Linked DNA regions of Homo sapiens: region 1 is linked to region 2. Evidence: fine-mapped expression QTL. A gene starts in region 2. The other region holds a variant in brackets. All regions are shown on one strand. Distances are from middle to middle.

What was found. PIP is the estimated chance that this variant, and not a neighbour inherited with it, causes the effect.
Region 1: its variant is fine-mapped to the expression of TP53I3 in whole blood (INTERVAL, PIP 0.99).

The regions. Positions count from the first base shown.
Region 1 is chr2:24,118,232-24,121,144 of GRCh38, forward strand. PFN4 (profilin family member 4) reads right to left here. Exons shown (of 5, transcript NM_199346.3): 4 at 1,346-1,451. It also overlaps a transcript of FAM228B not described here. Among named protein-coding and RNA genes, the nearest start is that of PFN4, 3.6 kb to the right of the region's middle. The variant G/A (reference allele first, on the strand shown) is at 1,431.
Region 2 is chr2:24,083,730-24,086,621 of GRCh38, forward strand. TP53I3 (tumor protein p53 inducible protein 3) reads right to left here and starts at 1,105. Exons shown (of 5, transcript NM_004881.5): 1 at 460-1,105. The coding sequence starts at 597. It also overlaps a transcript of FAM228B not described here. RefSeq lists enhancers at 343-442, 593-642, 1,390-1,890 and a silencer at 653-832.

The DNA of each region.
Region 1 (2,913 bases), 35 kb after region 2:
TCTGCTCCTGCCCTACAATTCTGAAATGGAGCCTCCTTCAAATCCTGACATCTGTTCAGGAAGGGTCCAATAATGCAAAATGCAATAAAATGAGGCATATCTGTACATAGGTATATAGTTTCTGTGATAAACTTAATTTCTCAATTGGCCCTTTAAGATTCAGCTCTCTGGCGCCTTCCCTGACTCTGCTAGGCCGAAGTAATTCATTGATTTATTCATCAAACATGTACTAATTGCCTACCCAACATCAGACACTGTGTTAGGTAATGGAGAAAAAGAAGGATTAAGACAAGACAAATGCCTTCCAGGGATTCACAATCTAGATAAACAAAGAACTGTAATGGGGATAATCATAAAGGTATGCATAAAATACATACCACAATGGATAGAAGCCTGAGATCTGACTTGGTTCTTTAATGATGATTAGGAATTTGCAGAATAGATGTGAGGGACAGGAAGGAAACAGAAAATATTTTAGGCAGATAGAACAGCATGTACAGAGGCATGGAAGGCAGAAGCTATATCTTAACCAGCTCTGCTTCCCTAATTTATCTAGGATAGTGCAGGGCACATGGTAAGTACCTCTGAATGTTTGTTGAATGAATGAATGAATGAATGAGTGGCTGCTTTTGTTACTAGAGGCTTCTGTTTCAAAGGAGTGTTTATGCAACTCCAGTAAACTTTTTAAAATTTAAATTTAGATTTTGAAAAATCTAAACACAAACACAATTTACCATTTATTAAGCTCAACTCTCACCGATATAATACCCAAGCTAGTTCTCTATGAGATCTTTATTCAAAAATGTATAGACACGGAGGGGGAATGCAGTATATACCAACAAAGTGGCTGCCTGACTCACAGTAATTCCTTTTCCTGTAAAATGTCTCTTTATATAGGGTAGACCCCCAGCAGCCACATCTCTGCCTTTTTACCCTGCTGTCTCCCCCCTCCCCTATCCTGCCCCACCTACATAGCTGACTGATACAGGGGTAAACCATATGACCTGAAACTTGCCAAATCAGGGTCCTAAGAGAAATTAAGGGGTATTATGGGAGGCTTGGCCATGATATCAGCCAGGAAAGGAAACAGTTTGCTATGAGACAGAACAAAGCTGACTCATTTAGAAGTCAAGACAGAATCCTAGCAGTGTTCCAGTCCCTGAATCTACCTTCCCCATGGCTCAGCTGCACCCTGTCCTTCCAGTGGCTATGTAAATAACCTCAGCATCCTTCCAATAAATTCCTCCTTTCTGCCCTAGCTGGTTTGAGTTGGATCTCTGTTACTCGTAGTCGGAAGACCCAACTAACATAGGGAATGAAGACAGGAACTAGGAGGCCAACTTACCCAGGCTCTCTGTGGCTTCCACACAGATGCTAGGATACATGCCCTCAGTGTAAGTTGCTACCAGAAGATACAGATGGGTCTTCAC[G/A]ACAACCACACCAGTGTTCTCCTGTATAAAGAATATAAGAGAATATTCTGCTCTTGGTTCTAATCACAGGACCAGTGGTCATGCTCCAGCTACGTTTTTCACCATTTCCTGATTTCCATATGTTTGGAATATATATGGAATATACATATTCCGTATATATTTTCCATATGTTTATATATCTGTTTTTGGACTGTCCACTCTTTTCCACCAATTTAGTTGCCTTTCCTCAAAAAGTTTCAGACTGTTATAATAATGGTAGATGGATTTTGAAAAAGTTCTGCAATTGATTATCATATACCCCATCCCAATTAGAACAACTGATGTAGGCCGGGTGCAGTGGCTCCCGCCTGTAATCCCAGCACTTTGGGAGGCCAAGGCAGAAAGATCACCTGAGGTTGGAAGTTTGAGACCAGCCTGGCCAACATGGTGAAACCCCATCTCTACTAAAAATACAAAAATTAGCCAGGCGTGGTGGCAGGCGCCTGTAACCCCAGCTACTCGGTAAGCTGAGGCAGGAGAATCTCTTGAACCCAGGAGGTGGAGGTTGCAGTGAGCCGAGATCGTGCCATTGCACTCCAGCCTGGGCGACAAAAGTGAAACTCGTCTCAAAAAAAAAAACAACAACAAAACAAAACAAAACAAAACAAAACTGATGTAATGGAAAGGTCGTACATTTTGGAATTGGACAGCTCTGGGCTTGAATTCTAGTGCCTCCTTTTCTGCTGCATGAGTAAGGGTTATTTAACCTTGTTAAGCCTCAGTGTCCTCATCTGTAAAATGAGATTATTTAGTTTATAATGTGGATGAAGCAGCATGCCTAACCCATAATATAGGGCATCCAATGAATGATTTTCATCTCTTTCATTCCTTATAAGCAACAGAGAGCTGATTTTTTTTAAAATTTTTTTTTTGAGATGGAATTTCGCTCTTGTTGCCCAAGCCGGAGTGCAATGGCACGATCTCGGCTCACTGCAACCTCTGCCTTCTGGATTCAAGAAATTCTCCTGCCTCAGCCTCCCAAGTAGCTGGGATTACAAGGGCGCACCACACCTGGCTAATTTTCTTGTATTTTTAGTAGAAACAGGGTTTCACCATGTTAGCTAGGCTGGTCTTGAACTCCTGACCTCAGCCTCCCAAAGTGCTGGGATTACAGGTGTGAGCCACTGTGCCTGGCCACTGAGAAATGTTTTAAGCACAGAAATGATTATCTCTTTTTTTTTTTTTTTTAAAGGAGGATGTAGAGTATGAAGGTGGGACTGTATTGGAAAGAGTTCAGGCAAGGCTCAGTTAATAGATTCTGGAATGAACATTTCTCAAAACCAGGCTCTTGATAGGACTTTCTTTCACATATGTCTTCCTGGCACTAGACTGCTATCTCAAGACAATGGCTCAAGACATTAATGGATTTAATCTGTTTTACAGAAAGGATCAGGCAGAGCAAGGAAATTTGGAGGCAAATTCTTTTCTTTTACTCAGCTCTCTT
Region 2 (2,892 bases):
GTCAGCTCCGGGACTCTCAGAGTGGAAAGAGTTAAGAGGTCTTTGGAGCCACAAAGACCTCAGCTTGAATCCCAGCTCTTCTGATTGCTAGTGTCACGGCCTTGGGCGTACTGCTTAACCTCACTGAACTTCAGTTTCCTTATCTGTAGAATTAAGATGGCGAACAGGGTAGCCTGGGGAGTAAGTGTGCCCACACCCCACAACAATGTTAGTTCCGCCCTCATCTGGAGGCCTGAGTGGCTATGGATTAGCTCGGGGTGGATTCTGCTTTACAAGTACTCCCCCTTGTTTTGCATGAACAAAGAGGGCGCCCTGGGTTTAGGTCTGGGAAGCCCCAGCGCAGCTGCCTGCTGGGTGTGGAGCGGTGCACGCCTTCACGTCTGGTCAATGTCCACTGAGTGCTGTTGAGAGGGAGGCTCTGGAGTCCCGCCCGCCCCGGCGCGGCTGAGCCCTGGGTACCTGCATTAAGTCCGCCCGGTTCAGGGCGCTGGCCGCCACCTTCAGGAGGACTTCACCCTCCCCCGGGCTCGGCTTGGCCACCTCCTTCACGTAGAGGTTTTCCGGTCCTCCCGGCTTGTCAAAGTGCACGGCTAACATATTGTCTGAGGACACAGGGCAGGGCAGGGCAGGACAGGACAGGGCAGGGCAGGGCAGGACAGGACAGGGCAGGGCAGGACAGGACAGGGCAGGGGCCGCTGTATCCTCGCGGAGCAGCCCAGCCTCAGGCTGGCACCGCAGCGCCCCCTGCCGGCCAGCGCCTCGCTGCCCTGGTCTGCCGCGGACCCGGCCTCCGCCCCGAGCTCCTGCCTGGGAAGTCCTCGGCCGCCTCCAGACCGATCCCACCCGGAACACAGATGGGAACGGCGGGAAGTGGGATGGCGGTACAGGGCTGGATGCGGCAGAGCAGGACAACGCCGAAGAGGATCAGGCAAATCACACTCCCTCTGAGTTGGAAGCCCCCAGCCCGACCCGGGTCCCCGGCGCCCGTATGAGTTACTTACTCCTGGCCCGGCTCCCCTCCCATGCACCAGGCGGCGCCGAGTGGTTCTGGCTCCTGCGGGTCCCGGTGACAAAGCCCGAGCCCCAGAGCCCCAGGACTGCCTCTGCCTCCACCGGAATGGACGGCTGGACCTGGGGTAGCCGGAGGGGTGGGGCTAAGCAGAACCACCCTCCCCCTCTTTCCTTTCCTCCTTCCCCCTTTAAAACGCAAAGTTAGAAGCAAGCAAATCAGATTTTCTTGTCCTTTTAGCCTCTGGAAAAGAGTCTTTCTCTCAGCTTGACAGAAAGTGCGATTCTAGCTCTCACTTCAAGGAGAGGAAACTTCCTTCTCTCTAGGGAACGAGACCCAACCTCTTGGCGGGCGGATTGGTCCATTTTCCAGGCATGGCCAGGCTTTTGGCACATTTATGTAACAGGCTGGCATCCCGCCCATCTTGAGCATGGGTGGGCAAGCTGGGTGCTGCTAAGAGAAGAGAAAGGAGCCGTTGGGAGTGGGGGTGGGGAAGGAAGGCAAAACGCAGTCCTGGGATCCTTATCACTCGCCTCCTCCTGACAGTCCTGGGGGAGAGGTTCAGCCCCAGGAGAAGGATGCTGGCGATTGGGTAAAAGCTGTATCCGTAAGCTACATGAAGGTTTCTCAATCTCGGCGCTATTGACATTTTGGACTAGCTAGTTCGTTATTGTAGGAGATCGTCCTGTGCATCGTAGGATGTTTAGCAGCATCCCTGGCCTCCCCCCACTACATATCCGTAGCACTCCTTGTAAATTCCTGTTTTAGTAAGAACCTCCCATCCTTGACATCTGATCACCCTCAATATCTCATCCTCCACCATCCCCCAAGTGATATCCGACCACCCTGGCCTGTCTTCAGTGAGAATCCTGTTAGGTCAGTTTAGATAGAATCCCCCTTACCCCTGATGCCTCTTACCAATTTTCCATCCACTGACCCCCTACACTGCTCCTTGGCTATACATTCCCACTTGTCCGTGATGCATTCAGAGTTGATCCCAACCTGTCTCCTCCACTGCAAGAACTCATTGCAGTGGTCCCTAAACCTGTAGCGATGGTGCTAAATAAAGTCTTCCTTAATGTGCTTTAACAAGTATCATTGAATAATTATTTCTTTAACACAACAGAGCAAAAGCCTATAGAGATGGAAATAATAAAATGATGGGACTTAAGGAAAAATTCAGGAGACCCTGCTATGAGAATAACAGGAATTTTAGGCCGGGCGCGGTGGCTCACGCCTGTAATCCCAGAACTTTGGGAGGCCAAGGCGGGCGGATCACGAGGTCAGGAGATCGAGACCATCCTGGCTAACACGGTGAAACCCCGTCTCTACTAAAAATACAAAAAATTAGCCGGGCGTGGTGGCGGGCGCCTGTAGTCCCAGCTATTCGGGAGGCTGAGGCAGGAGAATGGCGTGAACCCGGGAGGGGGAGCTTGCAGTGAGCCGAGATCGCACCACTGCACTCCAGCCTGGACGACAGAGTGAGACTCCGTCTCAAAAAAAAAAAAAAAAAAGGAATTTTAGAAGGAGGAAGAGGAATGGATGAAGAAGATTCAATAGTTAACCAAATAAAAGAATACAGTTTTCCTAAATTCTACCAGATTATACGGATTGAAAACATTCACTAAAGGATGGATTCATAAGAACAAAAATGCATGCCTATATTTTATAAAATTTCAGGTTCTAACAAGTGTGGAAAGAATAAGTTACTCACAATTGGTTAAAAAAAATGGCTTCCTTCTCTCCCTCCCTCCCTCCTTCCTTCCTTCCCTCCTTCCCCACCCCCTCTTTCTCTCTCTCTCTTTTTTGTAGTGTAGGGGTCTCATTATGTTGCCCAGGCTGGTCTCAAACTCCTGGACTCAAGCAATCCTCCTGCCTCAGCC